Homo sapiens: one gene and its partners. The protein of the gene in region 1 purifies or fractionates together with the protein of each later gene. This does not show direct contact. Each region holds a gene or a part of one and is shown in the gene's direction. Other genes may lie near its edges.

The links.
Region 2: the proteins of ZMAT3 (region 1) and FTO purify together in Homo sapiens (affinity purification with mass spectrometry; 3 studies listed by BioGRID and IntAct, with this or other methods). This does not show direct contact.
Region 3: the proteins of ZMAT3 (region 1) and ACTA2 purify together in Homo sapiens (affinity purification with mass spectrometry; 3 studies listed by BioGRID and IntAct, with this or other methods). This does not show direct contact.
Region 4: the proteins of ZMAT3 (region 1) and DCAF17 purify together in Homo sapiens (affinity purification with mass spectrometry; 3 studies listed by BioGRID and IntAct, with this or other methods). This does not show direct contact.

What each region holds. Positions count from the first base shown.
Region 1 is NC_000003.12:179,015,354-179,020,650, reverse strand, and holds the end of ZMAT3 (zinc finger matrin-type protein 3), read left to right. Parts: 3' UTR 1-3,428; downstream 3,429-5,297. UniProt on the Homo sapiens protein: Acts as a bona fide target gene of p53/TP53. May play a role in the TP53-dependent growth regulatory pathway. May contribute to TP53-mediated apoptosis by regulation of TP53 expression and translocation to the nucleus and nucleolus.
Region 2 is NC_000016.10:53,699,773-53,707,155, forward strand, and holds the start of FTO (alpha-ketoglutarate-dependent dioxygenase FTO), read left to right. Parts: upstream 1-4,383; 5' UTR 4,384-4,412; coding exon 4,413-4,457; intron 4,458-7,383. Other genes in the region: RPGRIP1L (protein fantom), read right to left, coding at 867-951.
Region 3 is NC_000010.11:88,934,860-88,944,069, reverse strand, and holds the end of ACTA2 (actin, aortic smooth muscle), read left to right. Parts: intron 1-162; coding exon 163-273; intron 274-2,200; coding exon 2,201-2,285; intron 2,286-2,679; coding exon 2,680-2,841; intron 2,842-4,095; exon of another isoform or gene 4,096-4,371; coding exon 4,372-4,563; exon of another isoform or gene 4,564-4,675; intron 4,676-5,593; exon of another isoform or gene 5,594-5,827; coding exon 5,828-6,009; intron 6,010-8,496; exon of another isoform or gene 8,497-8,703; coding exon 8,704-8,847; 3' UTR 8,848-8,996; downstream 8,997-9,210. UniProt on the Homo sapiens protein: Actins are highly conserved proteins that are involved in various types of cell motility and are ubiquitously expressed in all eukaryotic cells.
Region 4 is NC_000002.12:171,443,307-171,452,516, forward strand, and holds part of DCAF17 (DDB1- and CUL4-associated factor 17), read left to right. Parts: intron 1-216; coding exon 217-307; intron 308-5,374; coding exon 5,375-5,511; intron 5,512-6,572; coding exon 6,573-6,651; intron 6,652-9,210. UniProt on the Homo sapiens protein: May function as a substrate receptor for CUL4-DDB1 E3 ubiquitin-protein ligase complex.

The sequences.
Region 1 (5,297 bases):
TTAAAGAACTTGGTGAGGCATATGCTAGGACAATAGAGCTGCTTTAGAAAGAAATTGAGACATGTTTTGTCAGGACAGATAAAAGTTTAATGCAGGCTTTTGAACAGATGTTTTAAAACAAATTTGACCTTACCAACTATTTTTTTCTTCTAGCCAAATCATTGTACAGGAGTTTCATATATGATAAAAAGTGTTTTGTTATTGTTTTTGCTTTCTTGGCAGGGGAGAACCCCTACCATTGTGAGCAGTTACTGTCACTCTGGCTGAATGGACAAATAGCTGTGTAAATAGCTTCTCATAAAACGCTTCTACTGATAGCTGTTTGACTTTTTCTTCCCGTTATGAATGGGAGGAACATTTGTAAACTTCCTTTCTGGGTAGCTACCAAAAAACGTACTGGCTTATGGTCCCATGTGACCTTGTCTCCGTTAAGCCCAGAATCTGAGTGCCTTTAGCAAGTGTTAGCATTTCACAGAGAGAAGAGAGACAGAATTATTGCTATTAATCACCATTCATAAATAGGAGCTTGGAATAACAAAGGTCTGTGTGAATTCTGTTCTACGTCTTTTTTTTCCCTTTTTTAAATAAATGTCAATTTGATATCAAGTAAAACTATTGTCATTATTGATCAGAAACCATACATTCTGAAAATGAATCCAGTTTTCCCAAGCTGGCAGAAGTCAGAGATCATTTTTCACCTTGATCTGTGTTGCGTTTGTACTTAGTGAATGGCAGTGTGGTTGATTGGAAGAGCTTGACACTGATGTTTGGAAAAATTCTTTATTCTAGTGGTCATTTTCAAACTTGTCTTCTGTAGAGAGGGGAAAAATTATGTATTTGCAGCTAAAGCGAAGAGACTGGCACAATAATTATTAATTGTGTTAGTTCATTTCTATATTAAATGAAGCATCTTCACAAATCAGGTTTGAAGCCATTAAAAGCAAAATTTTCCCTAGTTTAATTAATTTAAAATTCTAAATTGCCTGACTACTTAGAATCTTAGAAACGCCCTGCTAGACTGATTTTATTATAGAAATGTTAACATGTTCCTCAACATTTTCTCAAGAAAATTTTCAGACATATATCAAAGTTGAAAAAACTTTGCAGTATAACCACTGCTAGATTCTGCCATCAACATTTGACTATACTTGTATTGCCATGTATCTGTTCATATTCTCTATCCCTCTTTTCATCCATCGATCCATCAGATTTTTTTTTTAAAGAACATTCCAAAGTAAATTTTAGGCAATACACTGCCCTAAATTCTTAGCATGGGTGTCATTAATTAAGGTTTAGTATTCGTTTAAATATCTATTTTGAAAGTGGTGTATGAAGTTGATAATCTGAGCCAATTAACATACTTTTTTTTTTTTCCTCCTGTGGACTTTTGTCTTCCAGTTTCTCTTTTTGTGTGTACTTAGGGTGAGGGAGGACAATTCCTTTCAAACACAAGTTTATTTTAGAATTGGTCATTTTTAAGTGCTTGTCATAAATTTTAAAGTTTCAATATAATTTTTCTTTTCCCCACTTCTGATAATGTATTTTTGCCAAACTATGCAGCTTCTTCAAAAAACTGTAAATTACTGATTGGGGTTTATGAAATCAGCGAATACCTCATTTCAATCTGTTGCTGCTTTTCTCCCTCTTGTCACTTCTCCTTTCACTACTTTCAGCTGCTCTACCAGAAGGTAGAGGGGAGTAAAGGGTCAAACCCCTATATAATTAGCTGTTTTAAACAACTCTAGGAGAGCAGATTAAGTAGCTTAGTAAGTTGAAACTATTAATTTTTCTAAAGAATTTGATTTGAATTCCTTGAGAATTGTAATTATCCACACTTCCTCCAGCTATAATTAGCAGAATTAAAAATGATTGTACTGTACAATGAGTTGTTGAAATTGTAAGCCTTAGTAACCATCTTTAGCTTTATTGTAGTCATGTTTAGAAAAAATTATTTTTACATATGCCTTTATTTTTATGCCCACTTTTTGTGGATAAGATTCTTTAGATAAAATCTAAAGAATTTTAAGTGACTTTCTCCAGGTCATGAAGATTCAATGGGTAGAATTGAATCAGAATTGAAATGTTCCAGATTCATATTCTTGTGTGTGTTTGATAAAATTCATGGCTTCCAAAGTAACTGAACACTTCCTTTGGGCCCTTGGAGGGAAAATCCATATTTTTACTAATTACACTTTTTTTTTTAGACATCTGGCAGTTCTTTGAACTTAAACATATTCTCATGGCCATAGTTCCAAATTAAGCCCGACGCAGTTGCTAAAAATCTTGCTGCACTGTTGAATACTAATAATGCAACATTTATTGGATGTTTTTGCATTTTGATGACCTTCATGATTCATTTATAAGTCTTTGTAAGTGCTTAAGTGACCCCCTCACTAGTGAAAATAATAAATGTTCTATATCATTTATTATTATTTGTGTATTCTCTACATGATATATTTTTTTAAGGAAGAGTAACTCCACATGTCAGAATGAGTGATATTATCCTAGGGCAAAGCGCAAATAGGGCAGTTTGTTTCTACTCTGCAAATATGGCATGTATAGGAACAAAACTCTTTTGGAGTGGCTGGTCATTGTTCTGCCCTCTTTTGGTACCTGAGTACCTTTCTGGGGTTTTGTAAATCGTGTGTCATTTGTAAGAATTTCACGTTAACTCTGCGTTACTTGGTGTTCACCTGTGGTATCCTTGACTGACCATAATGATTTAGTTTGGGTATGATGTGTCTGCTTTGAAATGCCTTACTGGAGTATGTCAGATCCTGCTTTAAAGCATTCCATATATCTGCTGGGACAATAAGTTGCTTCTCCTTGGAAATATGCTCTAGATTCAGAAGCAAAACCGATTTTGCTTTCACCATTAAGGTTGCATTTTAATGCAGTTATTGTTTTAAATTAGAGAATAAAATGTAAAACCAAGGGAGGCTTTAGAACCCTTTATTGAATGGCATGGCAAACTTTTAAAACTGCTTTTGCTATTTCACTAGAACTATCTTTGATAAAGGATATAGCTAAAAAATGTCAGCCCAAACTGTGTGTAATTAGGGTTGTTTATTAAAATTTTCTCTAAATGTCATACAGAGGCTTAAGATCTGTGTATGCTGTTGGGTCGGAGTGCCAGTCACTGCTTTGGAAGTCTGTGTTCTGGGGCTGCAGAATGACAAACGTGTCATGGGATTAAAACCAATCAACTGTGAATTGTGAAATTGAAACTACTCTTTCGGTTTTATTTTCTTTAGCATATTGAGTATAGAAATCTGAAACTTATTTAAAATTTATACTGCTTTTGTTGATGGCTCATTTTGGCTGTGTATCCTCACTTATGTACTGATTTCTGATAAAGGCTTGACATTATTATAACACGCATTTTGTGTTCCAGTTTAATAAAACGGTTTCTGAGTCTTGTCTGAAAATTGTTTGGTTATGAGTTGAAGATCAAGGGAAGAAGGTAAATTGTCATCACTGAGACGTTATTTTGATGCCGATTCTCGATGACTGTGGGTTCTCCATTCATCAGTCTGCACACAGTCTGCCATGGTCTTCTGGAAATCATGCAAGTACTGTAAGCTTTTAGGTTGGCAGTAGAATCAACCTAGCTGCCCACACTGCCCGTTCTCCCCATCACTGGAGTTAGCCTGGGACTGGAGTGAGTTCTCAATTTTGTTGGTAGATTTTAATATTTATTTTCCCTTCAAATTTTAAGAAAGTTGGCCTTAGTACCATAAACACTGCTGGAAATAAACACATTATTAAAAAGCATATACCCATTAATCTTTTGGGGGTGTTTTACATGTAAAATACTCTTACAAATATAATCAATTTATATATGCAATATAATTGAGATGTGGTCCTTTAAACAGCCTGGTTTTCTGTATACAGTGTACTTTTGAATTTAAATGCTCACTTAAAAAAGTAGATTATAGGCTGTAAGATGCTGTTATGCTTTAATTAATCAGGATGCAAGACACATACCCTTACTGTTGTGGGAAAAATTCTTCGGTCTGCACACACAAAAAATGTTTCTGAATGAAGTGAATAGATCACACTGAATTTGTGTGTTGTAAAGTACTCAAGGCATCAGCACATTTTATTAAATCATCTCCAGGAGATTCTTAGCTTTAAAAAAGCCATGATAATATGCACCAAAAAAGTCTTAAATGATTTCAGATTTTCAGCCTTTTTAAAGGCATTTCTGAGGCTCATTCATTGGCTGAAAATCTATTCAAGATCAAATGCTGGGTGTTATCCTTTATAATTTCTTAAAGGGCTGGTGATAAAGTTTCCCAATGTATGATAAATTGATATAAGATTATAAAGATCAGAAATAGATCTTTTTATGTGAGTTTTAAGATTTTTATCATCTGAGTTGAGGCTTAAACCACAACAATTCTTAGTTGTGGGATCTTCATAACTTGAAAATTAAGAATTACAAAAAGATGAAGACAGTTAACTATTGTGTAACGTGAATATTATTTTAAAGGGATCTGATTATGAGTTCTTACCAAAAAAAATCCCCTAAAAATACATTTCATGGTTTTTAATCTTCAAGTCTGTGTGTGTATGTGTGTATATATATTTAGGGGGAATGTATACTAGGAGGGAGTTTATGGAAACATGTTTAAGATGATCATATGCTAGTAATGAAGTGTGTCCAAAGGAACAGATGTAAATTTGCCACTGGAAGAAATACACTCCACCATAGGCAGTCTATAACTTATGCTTGGCATTTTGGATAAATCTTTAAGTATGTAATTAGAGCTTCAAATGTGTTTTGGCTGGAAGTTGTCCCTCTAGACAGGAACAAGATGCCTTTCATATTAGCTTCAATTTTTCATCTTTGCTGATGCCAGAGGCACCTCTCTAACCCTGTTTTCTAGAAATCCTTACTAGGTTATGGACTTTGACCAACGGTATCTAGTGCCACCTTGTGGACTGTCTAGATTTTACAGTTAGCAGTTTGTGGTTGGTGAACTAACTTTAAAGCAGGATGTTTGGTTGAAAACCACCTTGTGGAGGATATGAGTTTTTATCTGTAAATAAAACAAGTCATGCCTTTAAGAGATACTGAGGACTGTTTTTGCAGCTTAAGTCTGTAAAGGATGACAGAGTGGGAAAGTGTTGAATTGGAAATCAGGATCCATATATATGTATGGATAGATATATATGCACAGGCATGTGTGAATGTCTCATTTTTTGTGATTATTTAAAAACGTCTATTTTGTTTAAAAAAATCTGTTCTCTACATATTCGGTTATGTGAACAACAACAAACATGGAAATTAA
Region 2 (7,383 bases), on another chromosome or scaffold:
GCGCCACTGCACTCCAGCCTGGGCGACAGAGCGAGACTTCGTCTCAAAAAAAAAAAAAAAAAAAAAAATTTCTGTGTAGCCAAATTTTATCTTTTTCAATAAACAATACATTGACCACTTTTCTGGTTTTCACAGTGGCCATTTACACTGTTCTGATTGAAAAGTGTATGTAGATTCCTAAATGGAATGTATCTTAAATCCCTAGCCTTCTCAGGCTAGAGGGGGATTTTACGTTTTCTATGAGCTGTTGATAATCGATACATGCATGACAGCATAGCTGACACAATGGACACACAAAGATAAACACAGCTCTCTGTTCTAAATTGTTCTTTAAAGTAGTGCTTTTCTTTCTCAATTTGAAAGTGCTTTTTAGCTCTACAGCAACTACTAAGTGATAAAAGGATAAAGAAAACCTTTAATCCATATTAATTCGATAAAAAAGTCACTATCATGTGAGATATTCCACTTAAAAGGCAAAACACTTAAAATACGGCCTTTCCTCCCATATAAAATTTAAACACAAAGAAATGTTTTAACACTGAATGTAATTTAAACCAGGCAATTCAGTTTGGAGGCTTGATACTCTCTATGTAGTTTCTACTGATGTGAGGAATTTTAAAAAGATGATTTATGTTAATTCTTTATCAGAACAGAGGGGGGACTGTACATTTTCTATGAGCTGTTGATAACTGATGCATGTAGTAAAATACCATATGTGTTCTAAACTCTCCATCTTTTTGTTTAGTCCAATCAAGGACTATATAGTTACTTAAATGGTTTGGTTTGTATGAGTATAAGAAATACTTTAAATTAAAAGTAGTCAGTGATCAAAGTTCATAACTGTAATAAATAACAGCTGGCCATACCTTGTAACCCTCCCATTCCAAAGAGGTTTAGACCTGTATCTTTCACAGGCAAGTCTCCTGCAGTCTCATCAGTTGGACCAGACATGGCCTAGCTGTGGAAAAAAGAAAATTCAAATAAACTCTTTCCAAATTATTACATTAACTATGCAATGGAATGAACCAAATAAAACGAAAAAGGGACTAGAACTTTAATGGGCATCTTATTGTCCACATGTGCTGCTTGGAGAAGATGAAAGCTTCTATTCTAATAGTACTACTACATTCAGTCATGGAGACAGTGTTCCTTTCAACAGTGTATTTCCTATAGTTTGCTTAGGAAATGAAGTAAGATTATCATTTAAGAAATACCTCCTCTCCATCCCTTTCCTCTCCCCAGCCTCCAAAAGAAAGCAGATATCTTGGAAAAAACTCAGGTCAGGAACTTGATTCAAATGGTTGCTCTATCATTAACAAACTAGTCAAGCCACCTAAACTCTCTGAGTTTCAGTCTCTCAGTTTTAAAAATGGAGAAAATAATACCTATCTCAGAGAGTTATTCTAAGGGTAAATGGGATGAGTAAATTAAAAGCACTGATCACATGTGCCTGGGATGTCAATATTACTCAAATATTGTCTGCTTGATGTACAAATGAGTGGGCAGTTCTGTGCATTTTGTGAGTTTTGTGAAAGAGGTTTCGTTGCATAAATTTACCAACTGGGTTTGTGTTTTTTTGTGTGTGTGTCTTGCCTTTGTTGCCATGAGGCCTAGGTCTCACCCAGGGTTCAACTACTTCAACATATAGGCTCTCTAGCTAATTCTAGTATTTTTGTAGTTTCTATTCTTTACAGAAATACACCATAGTAACTCTATTTTGAGTATGGATGTGAGTGGTCCACACAATATCTAGTATGCAAAAATAAAGGATTTTATATTTTCATTTCAATCTACCTAGTAAGCTACATGCAAACTGTGAATGAAGATACTCTAAAGGGCAGAGTTCTTAAGCTCTAGGATATTGGTTCTAGAATGTAAAGACCAAGACAGTAGCAAGCTTCATTGTCTTGTTCAGCTCTGTATTCTTGGAGGCTAGCATAGAGCGTGGTGCATTCTGAGAGCAGGCATTCATTAAATAGTTGTTGAGTGAGTGAATGGAGTCCATGGGGTTTCAGGGTCTGTGAACCCAGAGATGGTTTACCAAATTTTGTATGTATATGTATATATGCAATATCTTTTAAAGAGGGTTCATAACTTTTATTACAACTCGCAAATGGTGGAGAACCATTGCATTTTGCTTTTACAGAAACAGCTAACAGACAAATCCTTGGGAGATCATCTACTTCTTTTGGAAGTACTCCTATAGAAAAGGTCAATTTTTAGGATCCTGTTGACACATAGGCCCGTGTATGAAAATGATTAGTTTTCCATGACAGAGTTAAGGTCACTTTAAAAATAATAATGATGATGATGATGATGATGGTGTTAACATTCATTGAACGCTTACTATGTGCCAGGTACTGTTCTAAGTGTTCTGTTATAGGAATGAAGTGTCTCACCATATCCTTGTGAGGCTGTTACTCAAATGATTCCTGCTTTACAAATGAGGAAGCTGAGACACAGATTAGTTAACTCACTTAAGGTGGTAGTTGAAAGTATTAATAGTTGTGTCTGGTGATATTTTTGGTTGTCACAACAAGGAAGCGGGATGCTACTGGCATCTAGTGAGTAGAGGCCATGGATGATGCTAAATATCTTACAGTGCTTAGGAGACATAATAATGAATTATCCAGCCCAAAATGTTAATAATAGTGTAGAAGCTGAAAAACCCTGCACAATGCTGCAATGCCTCTCCAACACCATCTTATGTTATCCTTCTTTGCTCACTATGCTTCACTTACATTATTCTTTACTTTCCTCGAACCCCCCATACCCTTGTCTTGCTCAAGGCCTTTGTATTAGCTGGTTCCTTAATCTTTGGAGCTCAGTTCACTTCCTCAGACAGGTTTTCCCTGACCATCCTATGTTAGAGTAGTCTTCCTTACATTTCTTCACTGTTTATTTCTTTTCTTTTCTTTTTTTTTTTTTTGAGACAGGGTCTTGCTATGTTGCCCGGGCTGGCCTTGAATTCATGGGTTCAAGTGATCCTCCCACCTCAGCCTCCCGAGTAGCTGGAACTACATGTGCGTGCCACCAAGCATGGCTTGTATCTCTTATAGCAACTGCCTCTATCTGAAGTTATCAGATAAAATTATTGTTTGTCTCCACTAAAAAAGGATAAACATCTTGAGACGGGTATTAGTCTTGTTCACAACTGTTCAGGAACAGTGCCTGGTACAGGGTGGGAACCAACATTAATATTTATTGAATGATTGGCTGTGCGTGGTGGCTCACACCTGTAATCCCAGCACTTTGCGAGGCCGAGACGGGCGGCTGACTTCAGGCCAGGAGTTCGAGACCAGCCTGGCCAACATGATGAAACCCTGTCTCTACTAAAAATACAAAAATTAGCTGGGTGTGGTGGCACACGCCTGTAATCCCAGCTACTCGGGAGGCTGAGGCAGAAGAATCGCTTGAACCTGGGAGGAGGAGTTTGCAGTAAGCTGAGGTCTTACCACTGCACTCCAGCCTGGGCAACGGAGCAAGAACCTGTCACACACACAAAAAAAAGAATAAAGAAAAAATATTTATTGAATGAATAAATGAATATCAGGTACTGAGATTAAAATGGCAAGCAAAACCCCCGCCTTTATGAAGCTAGCAAGTTATGGAGGTAATCACATGATAAACAAATAATATATAATTAAGCAAACAATAGACCACTCAGGAGGTTTAGGGTCTACCAACCAACTCCTAATCCAGGGCAAATGAGCAAACTGTGTTAGGGACCTACAACTTGCAGGATCTGGATAGAGATGGCAATTAGCAGCATCAACTCTCACCTTCATGGCTGGGATATAACATTTCAAATTGGTCCTGGACGTGGGGATAAAGGGCGGCCTGTGATTCAGGCCTGAGGATGTGGAGGTGTCTTGGGCTGGGCTGCTTTCACGCCAGCAGAACTCCAGGGCCAACTCCAGGGCCTTCTCCAGGCGGCAGAGCGGACCCTAGGACCCCGGCCCGCGCTGCAGTGGGGAGGGTCAGCAACCTCCACCCACCCTCATCCTCCCCCATCCTCCCGGGTACTCACCGTGCCACTGGCCCTGCAGCTAGCTACCGTTGCTATAGCGCCGACAGCGTGGCGGGCGGCTGGCCGAGAGGAGCACGGGAGAAACATGGCAGGCTCCCGTAGCCTCCTGGGAAATGTAGTTCTCCTTGGACTCTAGCCTGTTTGCTCGCGGGGTAGCGGACTACGCTCTTCCAGCTGTCGGACCTGGGAAATTCTCCTGTGCTAAATCCCGTGGCGCTCGCGGGTGTCGCCGCGGTGCATCCTGGGAGTTGTAGTTTTTTCTACTCAGAGGGAGAATAGCTCCAGACGGGAGCAGGACGCTGAGAGAACTACATGCAGGAGGCGGGGTCCAGGGCGAGGGATCTACGCAGCTTGCGGTGGCGAAGGCGGCTTTAGTGGCAGCATGAAGCGCACCCCGACTGCCGAGGAACGAGAGCGCGAAGCTAAGGTATGTCGGGCTCCCGGGGCCTGGAGATCTTCGTGCGCTGTGAGCAAGGATCAGGGAACCGGAAGGGCTTGGTTTGATGGCGAGCGGATGCGCGGTGTTAAACTAAGGGATGACAGGGCCTTGTCAGCAAGGGACCTGGAGATATTAGAGGGGATGTTACAAATTCGTGCTCTTCAGGATGCAGGCCGAGTCTTGTTGGATCGGCTCAAAAATGAGAAGCAAGATACCCATTTCCTTGTCCTTCTTCTGCATCTATTCCTTGGTTAAATTTGTCGCCATCCCTGTGCCTCAGTTTACCGGATTCTCAGATGACTGTGATCATACCAGCTGTGCTTTCTCATAATGGTCTCTGAGGACTGAGATCGGCTTAGATGAAATATCTGTGCAGTCAGCTGTGTTTCTTTGGAACAATTGTCTCCGTGACCGGCTGATAACAGTTTGTGTCTTTTAGCGCTGTGGATATGAATCTTTAACTACATTGCTCCTCTCTACCTTTGATGTTCAGCTTCTGGTAGTTGCCATTCCATGGGATGACCATAATAATGGCAACAGAGATTTTAAAAAGCATTTATTGTGGGTCAGGCACTGTATTAAGTGCATAATATTTAAATTATTTCATATCATTGTCACAGCAGATTGCAAGATAGATATTATACAGATGGAGTATAAATAACAGCCCAGCTTCACAGATGAAGAACTGAGGCTCAGAAGCATTGAGTGTTTTCCTTTCTCTCATTCCCAAACTCAGATCCTGTTGATTTGTCTACGTATATTGGGAATATGCCCACTTTTTTTTTTTTTCATCTCCACTACCTTGGACCAAGCTACCATTATCTTTTTAATAGACTGTTGGAATAGCCTATTGATTGGCCTACACTCACTCTACACCCTAACTTAACTCTTCTTCCACCTTCTCTCCCTTCCCTCAACTACCATTCTCTTCTGCACACCATAGAGTAAGATCTTCGTGAAATGCAAATATAATTATGTCCCTTTCCTTTCTCCTTACTCTGCCAACCACCTGTTTAAAAATATTCCATGGCTTTCTGTTGCTCTTAGGATAAAGGCAAAACTTCACATTGCCTACAAGATCCTGCATGATCTGGACCCTACCTGCTTTCACAACCCCATTGGATATGACACTCTGCTCTCTGCCTACCAGTCACTTTGGCCTTCTTAAAAGTCACTCTTCACTATACTTTATCGGGCTTCAGGGCCTTTGCACATGTCATTTGCTGCCTACTCTATGTTAGGCAAATATTGGCAGTGAATAACAGTGTTAAATAACGTAGACACAGTTCTTGCTTTCATAGAATTTCATCTTACACGTGAGTCTGTTTAGGGCAATACACCTAAGGATTTAAAATATAAAATCTGCTCTATATTGACCTGAGTTATTGCAGTATTTCGTAAGGGACCAGAAGTTTTCATGCTTGAGTCTGCATATGATGTGGATAATATATTAAAGATAAGCACAAAGAGGGCGACCCTTCTGCTTTAGTCTACACAGTGCAAAGAAACAAATGTCACCTCATGGTGTTGTGCATGATGTCTTTCTCATCTTTCAGGTTTATTTTTAAAGTATTTCATTTATTCTGTGAAGATTTGTTGAGCACCTATTATTTGCCATAAGTTGGGATTATAATTTTGGCTGAAATAGAATCACTGCACCAAAGAAGCTCTTACTCTATTGAAACCATAACCATTGCCTGTGAGGGAGTTACTAGTGTCATCCATATTTTAGAGATTTAGAAACTGAGACTTGTAGGTAAATCGTGACTTGCCCAAGGCCACTTGGTTGCTAGGTGAAACTAGTGCTCTGAGCCAGGTCTTCTGACTCCAAATTCAAGGCTTTTCCCATTTTCTGCTTGTGAAACATGTTGAATTAGTAGAGCAAATTGTCTTCCTTTTTTCTTTAAAAAATTGGCTGTTCATTTAAAATTTGTTTGCTTAATATTATTTGTTAGAACAAAGTATAAGTAGTTGTTTTAAATCTTAAATGTAAAGTGTCCAATGGCTCATGAATTATCTTCTCTTTTTCTAATCAATTTTATTGAGGTATAATTTACATACAGTCATTTGCAACCATTTTTGTGTACAATTTGATGCCTTTTGACAAATGTATATACCTGCAAAACCACCACAGTTGGCATAGCGAACATTTCTCTCCTAAGTTCCCTCTCGTTAATTTGTGGTTAGTCTGTCCCTCCACCTTGGCCCCCAAACAACCACTGATATGTTTTTTGTCTCTGTAGATGCATCTGTATTTTCTAGATTTCATATAAATGGAAGCATACAGTGTATACTTTTGGGTCTTTTTTTCATTCAGCGTAATGATTTTTTTTTCAAAATAGAGATGGTGTCTTGCTGTGTTGCCCAAGTTGGTCTGGAACTCCTGGGCTGAAGCCGTCCTCCTGCCTCTGCTACCCAAAGTACTGGGATTATAGGCGTGAGCCACTGTGCCTGGCCAGCATAATGGTTTTTGAGATTAATCCATGTTGTTGTATGTATCCATAATTTGTTCCTTTTTATCGCAAATTAGTGGCCCACTGTATGGAGATACCACATGTTGTTTATTCATTCACTTGTTGCTGGACATTAGGATTGTTTCTGGTTTTGGACTCTTATGAAAAAAGCTGTTTTTACCATTCATGTATGAGTCTTTCCATTTTCATTTCTGTCAAAAAAAGCTGCTATGACCATTCACCTAAGAGTCTTTACATTTTTATTTCTGTCGGGTAATGCCCAGGAGTAGAATTGCTTAGTTATAGGGGAGTTCTTTGTTTAACCTTATGAAGAAATTACCAGTTTTCCGAAGTGATTTGACCATTTGTTTTAGTTTCTTATGGCTGCTGCAACAAGTTACCACAAACTTGGTGGCTTAAAACAACAGAAATTTATTATCTTACAGTTCTGGAGATGAGGC
Region 3 (9,210 bases), on another chromosome or scaffold:
TGAGCTTCAGTCTCTGCATCTATAAAACCATGGACACATGCATGAGTACTTGTAGCATTTCCTTTGGTCTTGGTTTCAAGTAGCTTCTGGTCCCTTTTTGGGAAATGCAGGACCTCATGACAGCACATCATTGTGTTTCTCCTCTGTCCCCCAACTCACTAGATCTGGCACCACTCTTTCTACAATGAGCTTCGTGTTGCCCCTGAAGAGCATCCCACCCTGCTCACGGAGGCACCCCTGAACCCCAAGGCCAACCGGGAGAAAATGACTCAAGTAAGTATGCTACCCCAGCACACAACACTGTGGGGTCTGGGGAAACTTCTGTTAGAAGGAGGCTATGCAGCACAGCAGAGAGAAGGCCGGAGCTAGGAGTCCACCAACAGACTAACAGCCTTCAGTGAACTCAGGGATCCCAAAGGACAGGAACAGCTTGAAAGTACTTGCATCCTTCCTGCAGGGACCAGCCCTTTGCCTCCAAAAGCAATAGGAAATTTAAAAGATTTCACTGAGAAGGGGCCACGTTTAAGTTATAATGTCTAAGGAGAAGTCACTTCAAAATGCAGCATCACATACAATAGGAATTTGGGTTCCAGAGTCAGACATATCTAGGTTTGAAAACTGGATCTGCCACTTATCAGTTATGTGACCTTAAAGAACTCCGTTAATTTCTCAGAGCCTCAGTTTCCTTGTCTATAAGTTGGGAGTAATATTAATACTATCATTTTTCCAAGGATTGATGTGAACATTAATGAGGTGAAATGACAGATGTGTATCATGGTTCCTAATAAACATCCAAAATATAGTACTTACTATTGTCATTATTATTACTTGTTTGAAGCTAAAGACCTCACAATAGAATCCCATCCAGCCCACCAGACAGAGCTCTGAGTTTTCTAGTTTGGAAGAGCTATTAAATAACAACGTCTAGTGTCAATTCTATACTTGTTATGGTCAAGTACTGGGCTCAGCATTTTACATTCATTGTCTCTTTAAGTTCTAGCAATGTGAAGCAGGAACTATGATTATATTGACTACATAAATGAAGAAATTGAGGCTCAGATACATTAAGTAATTCTCCCAGGGTCACACAGCTAGAACTGGCAAAGCCTGGGATTGATCCACGATCTTCCAGCATTGAAGAATCATAAATGTAAATAACTGCAAGGCCTTTTCCTCAGAAGAGCTCCTGGTGCTTGCACCAACCCACTAGCACTTGTTCTCTACAGGGGAACATCTGTGGGCCTGGGAATCACTGCACGTCGCAAGAGATGTTGCTTCTGATGAATTATTGTTCCTGTCAGTGGTGTGAAGGCAAAAAAAAAAAAATGGTTGGAAATTATGGCTTGCTAGCAAATGATGTCAGACATTCTGGTTAATAGAGTAGGAAGGGTCTTACAGATGGAGAAATGAAGACCCACGGACATCTCCTGATGCACAAACTTCTCACAAGTGACCTGGAGGGGCTTGGTTCTAATCTTGTCCCTGGACTGCACCAACTGGGGCACTGACATTCTATGTGGTCCTCTATTACCATTGGGCTGGTCCTGTCTTCCAGGAACCAGGGCCTCTCCCACTGCAACCAGAATGGCCTCAGATTCTAGGGTTAGCATTGACCCAGTAACTACATAAAAAAGTGGAATAGATTAAATAGAACCTCAGACAAATCACAGAAATGGGGCTAAACCTAGCCAGCCTGAGCTTCAGATTTAAAAGTTCTCTTTCTTTATACCAGGGAAATCAAAACCTGGATGTTGTCTTCTCTTTTTCTTCTGGCTTTGACATAGTTAACAAGCCCTAGGATGTCTGCACTGGAAAAATGGGAGATCTCATTTAGTCCAAACTCCTCCTCTGTTAAGAGACCTGGAATAAAGCCACTATTAATCAACTATTAGTTTGGTGACTATTAGTCAAAGCCAGGACCAGAGCCAGAAGCTGGACTTTCCTTTCCCCTGGCCAAACCTTGTGTGCACACTGTTTCTTCCCCTCCCCACCCTGTCAGGCCATTGATGTGATGGCTCCCCATTCACACCTTCATTTCTCCTCTTTAACGTGACCAGGGCTGTTCTGAACCTCCTTACTTTGGCCTCCTCTGCCCAGAACAGGTCAGGCCCCTCTGCATCCATCAACCAGGTGTGCTCTCCTGACCATTCTTTGTCAGATGGGCACCTTCACTAACTCAGCTCTTTGGATTGCTTTGCAGATTATGTTTGAGACTTTCAATGTCCCAGCCATGTATGTGGCTATCCAGGCGGTGCTGTCTCTCTATGCCTCTGGACGCACAACTGGTAGGTGGCTGGGCGGGACAGCAAGCTGGTTGGAGCGCACTGCCAGAGATGGGATTGAATGGTCGTTAACACGTGGGGGTGACGGACTGGAGTTGAGTTAGAATGGACACGGCTGAACCCAGCCCTAAAAGATCTTCTTCTAGTGTTCAAAATAAGCCCTTGATCTCATATTTCTAGCAGAACTTTTTTCTACTGTTTTCCTCTTCCTGTTCTTTACTTTTTTTCATCTTCCCCGAGCCCTGTCCCACCTCACCTCTCCTATCACATGCCCTGTTTTCTCTTTTTAAATAAGAGGCTCGGAAATTCCCTCTCCCCCAAGGCTTCCCTCTACTTGTCCAGCAAGTAACCACATGCCAGCTGCCATGGTGACTTATCACGCCCAATTGTCTCCCAGGCATCGTGCTGGACTCTGGAGATGGTGTCACCCACAATGTCCCCATCTATGAGGGCTATGCCTTGCCCCATGCCATCATGCGTCTGGATCTGGCTGGCCGAGATCTCACTGACTACCTCATGAAGATCCTGACTGAGCGTGGCTATTCCTTCGTTACTACTGGTGAGGCCTGTGGGAGATAAGGGGGAGAGGGGAGCAGTGTGTTGCTCAGTAACTTCCAGGACCATCCTCACTATCCAAGGAGATGATGGGATGAAGTTTTGCAAATGGCAAGGCCTGGCTCTAATGCACAGAGCAAAGCACATCTTTCTTTGCTGTGTGAAGTTGCAAAATGATTACACTATTTCCTTGAGGAGAACAGTTATAGACACCCAGTGTTATGCATTAGTCAGTGTTGTATAATTGATCTTTTTTTAATCCCCTCCATTAGCAAATAGAAGAAGATTGTGCAGAGACTGAAGATGGCATGGTGTGGTGATTGGCAGGAGACATTGTGATAGGACTCGAGTCCCAACTCTGCTACTCAGTAGCTCTGTGAGCTTGGACAAGTTAACCAACCATAGTCTCTTTATTTGTAAAATGGGGATAATAATAGACCCTATATCACATGATTGTTATCAGTATTAAATGGAAGAACGCATGTGGAATACTTGACATAGAGTAAGCATTCAATAATTGTTAGCTATTAACAGTGATACTTATTAATAGCTAACACAGTGACATATGTGTATTCAGATTCTAAGCCGGTGCACCCAGTCCTCCCTTCACAAGAGGAAAGTGTCAGCATTGCCAGAAACATTGTATGTCCTCAGTGCTGGTGGCTCCAGCTACCTGTCCTCCCCTTAGCAATTTGGTATTGTCCAAACATTTAGGTTTCTGAACATGCCTGAGGCTTATTTTATGCTCCAAATTTGAGGCTTGAGACTTGAACCCTGCCAATGTTAAAGTCTCCACTTGCAATATGAAGTTGAATAATTGCATTCCTCCTCTGCTCCCTACAAAGAATCCCAAGATGCCTCTAAAAGGTTCCTAGAGCCTCAGATATAATTAATAGCCTAGAACTTCAGAGAGCAGAAGTCTGAAAGGTCTCTCCCTGCCCACTTCTTCCGTATCTCGTTCAGTATGCACCGCTGAAACCTTCTGGACTAGGCCTGGTCCTGAGACAGCACCACCTCTTTCCTGGAGGGTGAGAAATGTGCCAAAGGTTTAACCTGCTATCCACTGGCCCAGGCAACAGGATCTCAGACTTTTTGAAAATTGTGAGGCCCCTGAGGAGCTGATTCAGCATAAGATATCCTGGTTAACTGAAAATACAATATAACAAACTTTCTGTCATAAAATAATTATAACACAGAGTAGTTATCCTGCCCACCCACCCCAAAAAATGTTATGGTACAAAAGGATCCGCTACTGTGTGCCTTTCTCTAGCTAGCTCATTTTATTCTTGTTATGCATTTCCCAGACAATGCATGCTGAGGGCCTACTATGCATGAGACACTGTCCTAGGAACAGAGGTGGTTCCCTGGTGGCCCTACTACGTCATTATCATTGTGGATTTTGGATTGCAGAATATTGAACTGACACATTTTTTGATGGCACATGTCTTGAGGGAGAGACTGCAGTAGGGCAGGTGAATCTTTGCCACCTGTGCAGACCCTAATGTTTGCCACAATGTTTGTATCTGGTTGACAGCTGAGCGTGAGATTGTCCGGGACATCAAGGAGAAACTGTGTTATGTAGCTCTGGACTTTGAAAATGAGATGGCCACTGCCGCATCCTCATCCTCCCTTGAGAAGAGTTACGAGTTGCCTGATGGGCAAGTGATCACCATCGGAAATGAACGTTTCCGCTGCCCAGAGACCCTGTTCCAGCCATCCTTCATCGGTAGGCAACAAACGCCCTTTTCCTGGGAAGGGGAGTCATTGTCTTCTTCCATATCAAGCCAGCCTCCAGAACATGGAGACAAGTGACGGTTGCCCCAAGACCAAAAGCATTTCTAAACCAGAAAAAGGGAAAGTGCCACATTTTCAAGGCGAGAAGACATAATGAGGCCAGGAAAAAGGTTTTCTTCCTAAGAAAACACTATCTATGTTGCAGTTAAGCCCAAAGCATTCATGGTGTATGATGAAAGAATTAAATAATGCCTGTGCTTTGGAGACAGCGGAAAGGGTAGCAAGGGTGTGCTGAAGGCTGAGAATTTGGGAATGCTGGGGGAGAGAAAAATAGAAGAGCACTCAAAGTGAGTCTGTTCCTACATTCACATTGTCTTGGAGAGACAGGTTTGCATAGTTGTTTACAGAGGCAGGCTCTGAGAGGGGTGAGCCTGGGTTTCAGTCTTAGTTCTCTTGATCTTGGGAAAGTCACTTAACCTCCCAACTAGTCTCCTCATGTATAAAGCGGAGACTGTAATATTACTTATGTCCTAGGATGGCTGTGAGAATTACAGGAGATAGATAAAGAGCACTTAGCCCACTGCCTGGCAAAAGCAAGCATTCAATAATTATCAGATATCACTAGTAATTAATAATCAGGTAGTGCTATTGTTAACGTTATCATTACATCACAGCACTGCAGAAGATGAAAGGGCACCTAGAGGTTTTTTGAAAACACCTGCGTCAGAAATTAACAAAAGTCCAGACCCCCACCCCCACCCAAAAAAAATGTTAGCAAGATTGGAAAAATGAGCCTTTTCCAACAGGATAAAAAATAGAGTAAGTTTCCCTGATAATCCAGCCCCATTAGCTTTGGGGGCTGGGGCAGATGCAACGTAGCTGTTAAATGGAGACCTGGGAGAGCTCTGAAGAGTTGTTGCAACATTGGCTCAGCGTGGAAGCTTTGCAGGGAATTGGAAGGCTTCATCCCTTATTTAAACCACATGGAGTGAGTAGTGAGTCTATTAAAAAATCAGTGATACCTGTTGTAGCCCACACCTCAGGATGCTGCAGCAGGCCTTCCTCATTAGAAGGCAGGCAGGAAGACATAGAGCATAACAAGACCCTTTTGTCTCTCAGACAGGTGGTTCCTAGATTATTATGTCTTCCCAGCCTCAGTCCACTGCAAGATCATCCAGATGTTCAAGTCTGGTCTTCCATGTCTAGCCTGGGTTTTACTCTCCACTTAAGGACCATGGCCTGTGTCTCTTTTCCAGGGATGGAGTCTGCTGGCATCCATGAAACCACCTACAACAGCATCATGAAGTGTGATATTGACATCAGGAAGGACCTCTATGCTAACAATGTCCTATCAGGGGGCACCACTATGTACCCTGGCATTGCCGACCGAATGCAGAAGGAGATCACGGCCCTAGCACCCAGCACCATGAAGATCAAGGTACTGTTCAGTGACAGACCCAGTGGCAATGCCGCCAGCAGTGTCAGCCCTATAACCACAGATAAGAACTCTTCAGAGACTGTATTTTGGTGACATGCAATTGTGGGTTTTAGGGGTAGGTAATGGACACAAATCTCATATTTTACAGGATGTAAGTCAATCTAGTTCATAAGAAAAATTGAGTTACTTTATATAAAATTTGATCTCTATTTATCCTTGTCTGTCAGCTACTTTCAGTAGCTGCAGTCAAAGTCAACAGAGCTCCCCACATGCTCATCTCTCTTTAAAATATGCATTTTGTTGTTTTTCTCGACACAAAAATAGTGCATCATGCATGTAACACATTTTTTAAAAATACTGATGACCTAGACTTATTTCTGAAGAACTTCAAACACTGTAGATTTAGGAGGAGCTTATACTCTTCCTCCACTACTAACCTCAATCCTGTGGCCAAGAATTCAAATTTTATCCTCATTCCTCTGTCTAGCACATCTTTTGGTACAGGTGCTCAAAAGCACAGAATGACTCTAGGATGACCAAGCTCAGTCCCTGAGCCACCCAGGACCCCTGTATGTGGTGTGAATGTTGAGCCCTAGTGAAGGGAACTCGGGGATTAAATGGAGATAATTCTTTGGAGGCAAACTTAACCTGTGGCTGGGTCACTTCTCAAAGGTTATTATCACTCTCTGAAGTCAGAAGGCCACACTTGGGACCCTCTGACCCATGTCACAGGAAGTAGAGGGGCAATTCTAGTGCAGTTCACACACGTGGGTATTTAAACAAATTATCTCCTCTTTGCACTCCCTTCTGTTTTTAGAAGGAGTATGCAGCTAACACTAGAGAGTGTGCTAGACTGAAACATGCACACTTTCTCTCTCCATGATAGGCTCTGGCTAGTCCTGCCCTAAAAGACTTCAGCATGAGAGAAGAGAGACTGTTTTCCAACAGCGTTTGTGTTTCTTGGATGCCATTCTGATCAGCTCTTACCCCCCTTACTTCCACACAAGAGGGAGGTGAATGAAGCCAGTAGCTGGGCTCACTACTGAGTTGATCTCATGAGGGTCGATAACAGAAAGAGGCTATTGCTAGAGTTGGGCAGTTCCTAGTTCTCTAAACTTGGTTTCTTGAATAGAAATTAATGTGAAACTCTGGGCCCCGATGTAATGAGATAGTATAGAGAACCAAGAAAAACCTAGGACAATAAGATGATAACATTTGGCAAAAATGAAACTGGATGAGAGACCTATGGGAACTCCCATAGAATTTGTCATAGGCTGTTCTTGCGTTGCTATAAAGAAATACCTAAGACTTGGGTAATTTGTAAAGAAAAGAGGTTTAACTGGCTCACAGTTCAGCAGGCTGTACAGGAAGCATAGCTCTAGCATCAGCTTCTGGGGAGGCCTCAGTCTCAGAAAGCTTCGAATCATGGTGGAAGGCGAAGCAGGGGCAGACACCTCACATGGCAAAAGCAGGGGCAACAGAGAGGGCAGGGGTGGGGGGAGGGTGCCACACACTTTGAAATAACCAGATTTCATGTGAACTCGGAAGAAGAGCTCACTTATCACCAAGGAGATGTCCTAAGCCATTCATGAGAGATCCACCCACGTGATCCAAACACCTCCTACCAGGCCCCACCTCCAACACGGGGGATTACATCTCAACATGAGATTTGGAGGAGATATCCAAACTATACTAAATTCTTTACAACTTTTCTGAAAATCTAAAATTGTTCCAAAATAAAAAGGTTATTTTTAAAACCAAACCAAAACATAAAACCACCTGGGAGAACCCAGGTTTGAATATCAGATCTGACACTGATATAACCGGTGTTACCTGGGCCAGTTACTTAAACTTTCTCAGCCTCTGTTTCCTCATATGTAATATGGGAGTAATTTAAGACTTATTCTTCAAGATGTTTATGAGAATCAAATGAGATAATACATGTAAAATGCTTAGCATAGTGCCTGGCATATAATTACATGCTCAGTAAATATCAGTACTTTGTATTAAGAAGTAAATGCTCAGAAGATAAAGATTAAACTGGTTAGCCAGTTTTCACTGTTCTCTGTGCCTAAACCATTCATTTATTTAAGAAACATGAGCATGCCTTGCAGGTTAGGCCTGTGCACTGGGAAAGGCCAACCAGTGCAGCTTAAGAGGCACCTATTGCAAGGGAATGTCCCCAGCAGGGGACCCTGAGTTCCCCAATGTTAAACAGAGCATCTGGGTGAAAAGTGGTAGTTCACTTCACCACGTGGAAACACATTTGTATACTAAGTCCTAGCACAATTAAAACTTCTCCTTTGAATAGGCTAGGGTTTGTTTCTACAGAAAGTGTATCGTGTTGAATTCTGAGGCAGAGTTCATGGAAATCAGAGGCATTGCCAGGGTTCTTAAGTGGGGGCCATGGCTGGATTTGGAGCCAACTTTCAGTTTGCTCAATAATGTGGTCGAAGAGTTACAGGTGAGAAAAACGAATGTGCTTACTGAAGAATTTCTAAATCCATGGCTCCCTCTGGCGGTCCTGCCAAGAACATGACACAATTAGGACACAATTGGCATCTAACAGACAAGCCTGTGTCCCTGCTGAACAAGAAACTAGGCCATGGTAGAACATCCAGGCTCTGTCCTACCGCACTAACGACTGCACTAATGATGACATTAATGACCATTCTTTTTCATCTTGACTGACAGATCATTGCCCCTCCGGAGCGCAAATACTCTGTCTGGATCGGTGGCTCCATCCTGGCCTCTCTGTCCACCTTCCAGCAGATGTGGATCAGCAAACAGGAATACGATGAAGCCGGGCCTTCCATTGTCCACCGCAAATGCTTCTAAAACACTTTCCTGCTCCTCTCTGTCTCTAGCACACAACTGTGAATGTCCTGTGGAATTATGCCTTCAGTTCTTTTCCAAATCATTCCTAGCCAAAGCTCTGACTCGTTACCTATGTGTTTTTTAATAAATCTGAAATAGGCTACTGGTAACTTCTTGCGTTGGCCTCCGATCAATACTCGACTGATACCATTTGTTAGGTTGACCTCACCCGTTACAGGATGGCTCCCTCTAGTGGTCCAGCTGAGCACATGGCAATTAGGATGGATATGTTTCTCAGGCAAAGGGTAGAATCACATTACCTGAAGTGGGGAGCTGCACTTCGGTTCTGTAAAGAGGAATAATTTGAGAATACATTGGAGATTT
Region 4 (9,210 bases), on another chromosome or scaffold:
TTTTTGGCAGTTTTATGGTATTGTAAACTATTTTAATCTTGTTTTTTTTTATATGAATTATGTGATCAGAAAAAAATATTAATATTTAGTTAAGAGGAAAGCAAATAAATTGTGCCTTGGTATTTCACATCTCTGAATAAAAATAGTCTCTCAAACCTGAACAAATACTGTCTTGGTTATCAAGAATAATAATCATTTATTTTTCTTTTTTCCCAGTGTTGCATCTGAGCCAAGAAAACTTTATGAAATGCCAAAATGTTCCAAATCAGAAAAAATAGAGGATGCTTTATTATGGGAATGCCCAGTGGTAAGATTTGTTTTTAGAGCGTTTGTTTCTAAAGCATTTTTAGCCTAGAAGAACCAGTTATTATTAACATATTGCATAAAATAATACAACTTAAATATCATAGTGACTCTTGCATCTTTAAAGCAATCAAGATGAGAGTATATCTTTTATTTTCCTCATGAAATAATTTCTGTATTAAAAATACTAATATTATGAATGTGTTTTTAAAATTAGATAGATTTTTTTTAGATCCTGAAAACTAAAAAGTTATAAATCGATTAAAAGTTATATAAGCAGCATAAGCTAATGTATAATTATCTTAGTGTTTAAGAGATCATTCCACTCAATATACTGAAACAGTAACAAAGTATTTAGAGCAACAGTTATTTTACGTTATTTTACGTGTTAGGAAAATAATAAAAATAAAATAATAGGATAAGCTCATTTCATAAGGCTAGCTTTGCCTGGGTGTATATTTTTCAAAACACTGTTTTCATGGAATGTTAACGGGTGTCAGAGGAGTTAGGGGGAATTGGGCTGTGAAAAACTAAGTTTGGGACATTCTGAGTTTAAGACTGTAAACATATCTATTGATAGAATTACTTCTCAGAGCCTTTACTAATAATAATAATACAATAATACTAATAGGTATGATGATTATCAAGCCATTTCCCCAAATTCTTTTGATCATAGAACTTCCTTGTTTAAGGAATATTTCTAAGTACAGGTTGAGCATCCCTAATCTGAAAATCTGAGATCCAACATGCTCCAAAATTCAAAACTTTTTGAATGCCGACATGACGCCACAAGTGGAAAATTTTACACCTGCCCTCATGTGACAGGCACAAAATTTAAAATATTATGTAAAATTATCTTCAGGCTACATGTATAAGATAGATATGAAACATAAATGAATTTTGTGTTTAGACTTGGGTCCCATCCCCAAGATACCTCATTATGCATATGCAAATATCCCCAAATCCAAAGAAATTCAAATCTGAAACACTTCTAGTCCCAAGTGTTTCAGTAGGAGAAGGGATAATCGACCTGTATTTGTTTTCTATAGGATCAGTGCTTATTCTAAGAAATGCACTTAGGAAATACTACAACAGATTAATCAGGTCTTTGAATCTGATTGGCTGTCCTTTAGGAAAAACGGAACTCATAATATGTGACCAAAAATAATTTTTAAAGGATAAGAGGCTGTACGCTAAATTTATTGTTAATTTTTTTTTCAGGCTATCATTTTTACATAAAGTTTTAGTTTTCTGGAGCTGCTGCTTTCTTTTTCTCTGAATACTTATTGTCTGTTCACTGAAGGCTCCTATTTAAAAATTAGAAAGCTTTTAAACCTATGTTTTCTTCTTCAACTCCTTATTGAAAGCTAAAAGTAACTGTTGTGCCTTTAGCAATTTAAAGCTTTTTGATCCATTTTCATTGGGGAGTATGGGGGAAGACGACAGATTTCTTAATTGAGAAAGTTTTTAATACACTAGTATAAAACACCAAAAATTTAGTAACCTAATTCCTATTCTCACTATTTTTTTTTTTTGAGACGGTCTCTCTTTGTTGCCCAGGCTGCAGTGCAGTGGCGTGATCTCCACTCACTGCAACCTCTGCCTCCCAGGCTCAAGCAATTCTCCTGCCTCAGCCTCCCAAGTAGCTGGGACTACAGGCACCCAGCACCATGCCCCACTAATTTTTGTATTTTTAGTAGACACGGGGTTTCACCATGTTGGCCAGGCTGGTCTCGAACTCTTGACCTCAAGTGATCCACCCTCCTTGGACTCCCAAAGTGCTGGGATTACAGGCATAAGCCACCATGCCCGGTCCGTATTCTCACTTATTTTTAAACATTTTATTCTCATTTCAACTGCAGCAAGATTTTCTCTTAAGAAAAACCAGGAGCATTTTGAATTGTTATTAACACACTGATATGAAACTACTTTTAAGTTAGTGTCCATCTTTTCCAAGACTCTGTGTGAATTACAGCTTTTTGTTCAAGAAAATATTTCGAACGTATTATATTTGCTGCTTCAAATTATTTTGATAGGCAAGTTATAAATAGTATATTTTTTAAAACTTAAATTTTTTTAATATATTTTTTTAAGACAGGGTCTCACTCTGTTGCCTAAGCTGGAGTCCAGTGGCACAATCACAGCTCACTGCAGCCTCTACCTCCTGGGCTCAGGTGATCCTTCCACCTTGGCCTCCTAAGTAGCTGGGACTACAGGTGTGCACCAACAAACCCAGCTAATTTTTGTATTTTTTGTAGAGGTGGGGTTTTGTCATGTTGCCTAGGCTAGTCTTGAACTCCTGGGCTCAAGTGATCTGCCCGCCTTGGCCTCCCAAAGTGCTGGGATTATAAGTGTGAGTCACCACGCTCAGCCAAAAACTTTTAAATCTTCATGAAACAACATTTAGATAAGACGTTGTAGAATAAATGCATTTATATCATTGCCCTGAATCCAGTGTAAGACTTCAAGGGTTAATAAACTTAAAAAAAAAATCTTATAGCCAGTATTTTAAGAAACTTGATTATACTTACGAAAGGAACATTGTTTGTTTTCTCTTCTTTTAAATATGGAGAGGTTTAATCCTTTACCTAACAAAGGAATTAATTTTAGCAAAATGATTCATTCCAACCCTCTTATAAGAAATATCTAGGAGAGTGGCCAGGTGCGGTGGCTCACGCCTGTAATCCCAGCACTTTGGGAGGCCGAGGCGGGCAGATCACGAGATCGGGTGTTCAAGACCAGCCTGACCAACATAGTGAAACCCCGTCTCTACTAAAAATACAAAAATTAGCCAGGTGTGGTGGCACGCACCTGTAATCCCAGATACTCGGGAGGCTGAGGCAGGAGAATCGCTTGAACCTGGGAGGCAGAGGTTGCAGTGAGCAGAGATCATGCCACTGCACTCCAGCCTGGGTGACAGAGCAAGACTCTGTCTCAAAAGAAAAAAAAAAAATCTAGGAGAGTCAACTAAGAAAAATAATGAATCTAAGTGATAAACATTCAGGAAATTCTCTAAATAAGAGATTTATTTACAGTCTTAATATCTCAGGGTTCTTTTTAGGTTTCCAGGGGAAAAGAGCAGGATAACAGTGTGGAGACTGCTAAGTTGAGAATTTAAAACAAATGAGAACATAAGATTTTTAAAATTGCATTGTGAATGTAACATTTTTTATCAATCCTTTAATCTCACTCTTTTAGACATATTGAGAAAATGTTAAATAGAAAATATTATGAAATTTTAATAAGATGTTTCAGATCTTTGAGCATGAAAAATATAACAAAAAAGCCTAATTTCAAAAAACTATTTGAGATCAAGGGACAATGGTGTGACCAATATGAAGGGTCAAGACTGAAATGTATTGTCTTTACTATCAAGAACTCTACTTTCAGTTTTTTCTCGGACAGTTAATTTCAGCTTCGTAGAGATTTCTGACCAAATTAAGGAACACTGTTTTCCTGGGTTTGTTTTGGGTATATGTCATTATAGTTATGTTATTTCTTACTGAAATTTATAATTGTGAGTTTTTTGTATTGTTTTAGTATTTAGTGGTGTATAATGTGTTATTCAATTATATGTAGTCATACAAAAAAAAAACACTAGCATACAAACAAAAATTATTTTTTTCCTTAACATTTGAAAGGCAAGACAAATTTTTAGGGAGCATATATAAAATAACTATGTCTTCATTCTTTTCTATTCACTTTTTGGCCTAAGCAGATACTAGATTAATTTCAGCCTCTCTTTACTTTCTTTCTTTCTTTTTTTCTTTTTTGAGATGGAGTCTTCTGTCGCCAGGCTGGAGTGCAGTGGCACGATCTCAGCTCACCGCAACCTCCACCTCCCGGGTTCAAGTGATTCTCCTGCCTCAGCCTCCCAAGTAGCTGGGATTATAGGCAAGCACCGCAACGCCCAGCTAATTTTTGTATTTTTTTTAGTAGAGATGGGGTTTCGCCATGTTGGCCAGGCTGGTCTCGATCTCCTGACATCGTGATCCAGCCACCTCAGCCTCCCAAAGTGCTGGGATTACAGGCGTGAGCCACCGCACCTAGCCACTTCTTTTTTTCCTTTTTATCTAGAAACAGAGTCTTGCTGTGTTGCCTAGGCTGATATCGAACTCCTGGGCTCAGGTAATCCTTCTGCCTCACTCTCTCAAAGTGCTGGGATTACAGGTGGGGACCACGATGCCCTTTTAGTCTACAAATTAAAGAAGAAAACTTTGCTTCTCTTTTTCTTCCTGCCTTAGACTTCCACCTTGTGGTGGCTCCTCAGTGACAGGAGTGCCCATGCAGCTATCCTCTCCCTTTTCTAGGATAATTCACTGGTGACATAGGTCATCTTTCAAACCAGGTCCATTTTCTGTACTTTGGCTGTCTTCATTGGTTTCTAGCTTTTCATTTGAGCTTAGGTTAGAACCACAGTGAATAATGAAGTAATTTGCATTTTGCCAGTTTTGACTTCCATCTAAAGGAAACAAGTCCTGTGGTAAAGGAAAAAGGGGGCAATATGAATGTCTATTCTAGCAGAGAACCCTTTTTTTTTGAGACGGGATCTCACTCTGTCACCCAGGCTGGAGTGCAGTGGCATAGTCATCACTCACTGCAGCCTTGACCTCCCAGTCTCAAGCGATCCTCTTGCCTCAGCCTCCTAAGTAGTTGGGACTCCAGGCACTCACCACCATGCTAATAGCAGAGGACTCTTAATCGCTATGCTATATACATGATTTTAAGAGCTGTTATTGTTGTTATTGTTATCACAGAGGTAGCATCATTGTCTTCTACTGTTATTATGACTAACATTTGTGAATACTTAATAAAATAATTAATTCATAATAATAAATTATTTCAGGCCATGTTTAAGTGCTTTATGTGAATAAACTCAATAAGTGATGATGAAATAATTACCCACAATCTTATCTTTCCTTGTCTTAATTCTCTAGTTGGGCATTTAATCTTTCTTTTGTGGTTTATTTATTTGGCATTTGAATATTTAGCTATTTTCTTTGGACATTGATTACTGCAAATTGTTCATGGCCAAGCAGTTTCATTTTTATATCTCTCTTTTTTTTTTTAGGGAGATATACTTCCCAATTCATCAGATTATAAGTCCTCACTCATAGCACTGACTGCTCATAATTGGCTACTTCGTATATCAGCAACTACGGGAAAAATCCTTGAGAAAATATATCTTGCACCTTATTGCAAATTCAGGTATTTACTGTGAATTTATTATTCAAGATTTTATTTTAAAAATTTGAAACCTGTGGCCCATGAAATTTCAAGCCTTTTTTCCCTGTCAGTTTTCTAATCCATTACCAGATCTCAATTAATAAACCTATTTTCTTTTTCTCCCCTCATGACTACATTTAGAGGTCTGAGTATAGAGACCCTCTATCATTTGTCTTTTTTTTTTCTTTTTTAAGACAAGGTCTTGCTCTGTCTCCCAGGCTGGAGTGCAGTGGCGTGATCTCTGCTTACTGCAACCTCCACCTACCAGGTTCAAGCGATTCTCCTGACTCAGCCTTCCCAGTAGCTGGGATTTTGGGTGTGCACCCCATGCCCAGCTACTTTTTGTATTTTTGGTAGAGCTGAGGTTTCCCTATGTTGGCCAGGCTGGTCTCAAACTCCTGACCTCAAGTGATCTGCCCACCTCAGCCTCCTAAAGTTCTGGGATTACAGGCGTGAGCCATCGTGCCCAGCTGTCATTTATCTTTGTATCCCTAATAAGTAACTAACCTGTAATAGTTTAAATAAACTTAAAAAAAAAAATTCCCTGTATTCTACAAATAGTATTTTCTATGTAAGATGCTCTTTATGGTAGATTTTCCTGAAGGCTAGTCTGTTTCAGTTAAATTGTCTGCTGTGTACAATCCAAGAACTGTTATTTTAACTATTAGTTTTATAAATTAGATGTAAATGGAGTGAATATGTTCATGGAATGTGTGAAAGTAACATTTTTAGTGCTTTTTATACTTCCATTTTAAAGTAGAAATGATTATTTTGTTTTCTAAGTTTTGAATACTCTTAGATCGAAAACAATTTTTATTCACCAATGCTCTAGAAAGATTAAAATTATGTATGTATTTAAATAGGGATATGTCCATATGGGGATATAGAGGAAATTTTTTTAGCTATTTATTTTTTAAAATAGATCACTTTGCTTTTATAATTTAAATAACTAAAAAATAGTTTACTTATAAAATATAATATTTTGGTTTTAAGTATAAGGAAACTGACCCAAATAAATAAACTTCTCTTCATTCTTTTAAAAGATACTTGAGCTGGGACACTCCTCAAGAAGTCATTGCAGTTAAGTCAGCTCAGAACAGAGGCTCAGCAGTGGCCCGGCAGGTATACATATTTAAACATTCAATAAAATGAAGACTCTTTTTCATAGGAATTTGTCTGCAGATTTGTTATGAAAAATCTAATGATCTTTTATTTCTGAAGCATGCTGTAAAAGATAGGATTCACGGCAACCTGGATGGGATCGGAGACCATTATTCTAAGTGAAGTAACTAAGAAATGGAAAACCAGACATTGTATTTTCTCACTCATAAGTGAGAGCTAAGCCTTGAGGATGCAAAGGCATAAGAATGATACAATTTACTCTGGAGACTCGGGTGAAAGGGTGGGAGGTGGGTGAGGGATGAAACACTACACATTGGGTATAGTGTATACCACTCAGGTGATATGTGCACCAAAATCTGAGAAATCACCACTAAAGAACTTACTCATGTGACCCAACACCACCTGTTCCTCAAAAACCTATTGAAATAAAATAATAATAAAAATATTTTAAAAAAGAAAAGTTGATAGGTAGATTTTTTTTTTCTGAAGCGTGCTATTTAAAGAGATTTTTCTCTTAAAGAATTACCCAGGATTTACTAGATTTTATAAAGTCTGGAAATTTATATCAAGAAACTTTTTGTTTCTATTGGTGACTTATGGGGAAATACTATGGAAAGCATTTATTGAGCACTTAAAAAATAGATATAGACTGCTTTTAGAGGTTTTCTGTTTCTTTATACACCGGGACACCTAGAAAAAGCAAATACTTATTTTGTGTCTCCCCTTGGCAGAGTCTGTTGTAGTTCTTTCTCATTTTTAATTTGAACTACTTCAGCTGTTTCTCACTAGTGTCCTTGATTGCAAAACAGGCAGGCACTGATCTGAGTTCTTTACCTGTATTTACTAATTTGATCTTCAGCACACTCCTTTCAGTAGATACTTTTATCATCCCATTTTACAGGTGAGGATTCTGAGCCCCAGAGAAGCTAAGTAACTTATCCAGCATCATAGTGTTGGTAACCTTGGCTCAAACTCAGGCAGTTTAGCTCTAGAGTCCCTGCTCTTATGCACTGTAGTAAGCTGCCCCTTCTTGAAATTTCTGTAATATGGACTGGCAGGTGAAGTTTATATAGAACTCTAGCATTAAAAAAAAAAAAAAGTTAAGTAGTTCCTTTAATTTTACCTTGTTTAGATAACTACATCAAGCATTTCCTTGTCAACCCTCCAGTGTATTCCCATACATGCTGGGTCTGTGAACTCTGCTTTTCATTCCTCCCTCATCTCTCTTGTCTACTTTTTCTGTATGCCCCTGAAGCCAAGCAAACTATTTGTTGGCTACTTCTACTTACTTTTTATCATGGTTATCTGAATGTTTTCCTACCCTTTACTAATCCTGCCCAGTCACATTAATAACTTAACTGCATGCCTTTTATTGGAATCTCCTTACCCTTTTCCTGATTTATTTAGTATGACATCTAAGAAAGAGAGATGCTATCTCTCTCTTAGTAATACTTCTCTCTTTATACTCTTACTACCTTGCTTTTACTTTGGTAAAGGAAAATTCAGAAAAGTGGGATAGTATAAAAAAGCAAAACATTTTGCTACTTTGAGAATTCTAAAGTGTCTTGTCTGATGTACCTTTTTAATAATTTAAATTGCTAAAGAGCAAGAATTTTTGTTTTGTTTTGTTTTGTTTTGAGACGGAGTCTCGCTTTGTTGCCAGGCTAGAGTGTCGTGGTGAGCTCTCAGCTCACTGCATCCTCTGCCTCCCAGGTTCAAGCAATTCTCCTGACTCAGCCTCCTGAGTAGCTGGGACTACAGGCGTGCACCACCAGGCCCAGCTAATTTTTGTATTTTTACTAGAGACGGGGTTTCACCATGTTGGCCAGCATGGTCTCGATCTCTTGACCTCCCAAAGTCCTGGGATTTACAGGCGTGAACCACCACTCCTGGCTAAGAATTTTTTTAAGTTTAATTCTATACGTTATCATATGTTAATGTTTTACATTTACCATCACCTGATAATGTTAATAAAATCTTGTCAGTATTTCTATATTCTGGACTGTTTTCCTACAGTCTCCAGCCAACAAGTAGTAGCTCTTAGTTGGGGTATATAAACTGTACTTTTCCTTTGGGTTTAAGGAACACAGAAGGAGTCTGATTTACCTTGAAGATATTAGTTCAATAAAAATTTATCCCTTTGGAAGGGAGAATCTTTTGGGCTTTAAGCATTACAATCTTTTTTGTTTGCTGTTTATTTGTTTTCTAACTTTTAGTTATAGCAGTTTTGATTGGTGTTTCCAGCCTTAAAAGTTCTATTGAAGCAGAGACTGGCTGTGATGGGGCAGACAGCTTTGCCTAACACAAATTTAAGAAATTCCCTTCAAAACTGTATTGGAGAAGTACAAGAGATTGTTTTACATTTCACAGTGGCAAGAAATTGGACCTTGTTCTTCAAAGTAAGGAGGCTATCCTTTTCAAGCAGAAGAGTCACTCAAGCTTTCATTGATGATATTATTTCTAATTTCCTGTAAAGGAGTCAGCACAACACTACTTTCATTATATATTTATTTATTTAGAGACAGCATGTCTGATGCCCAGGCTGGAGTGCAATGGCTT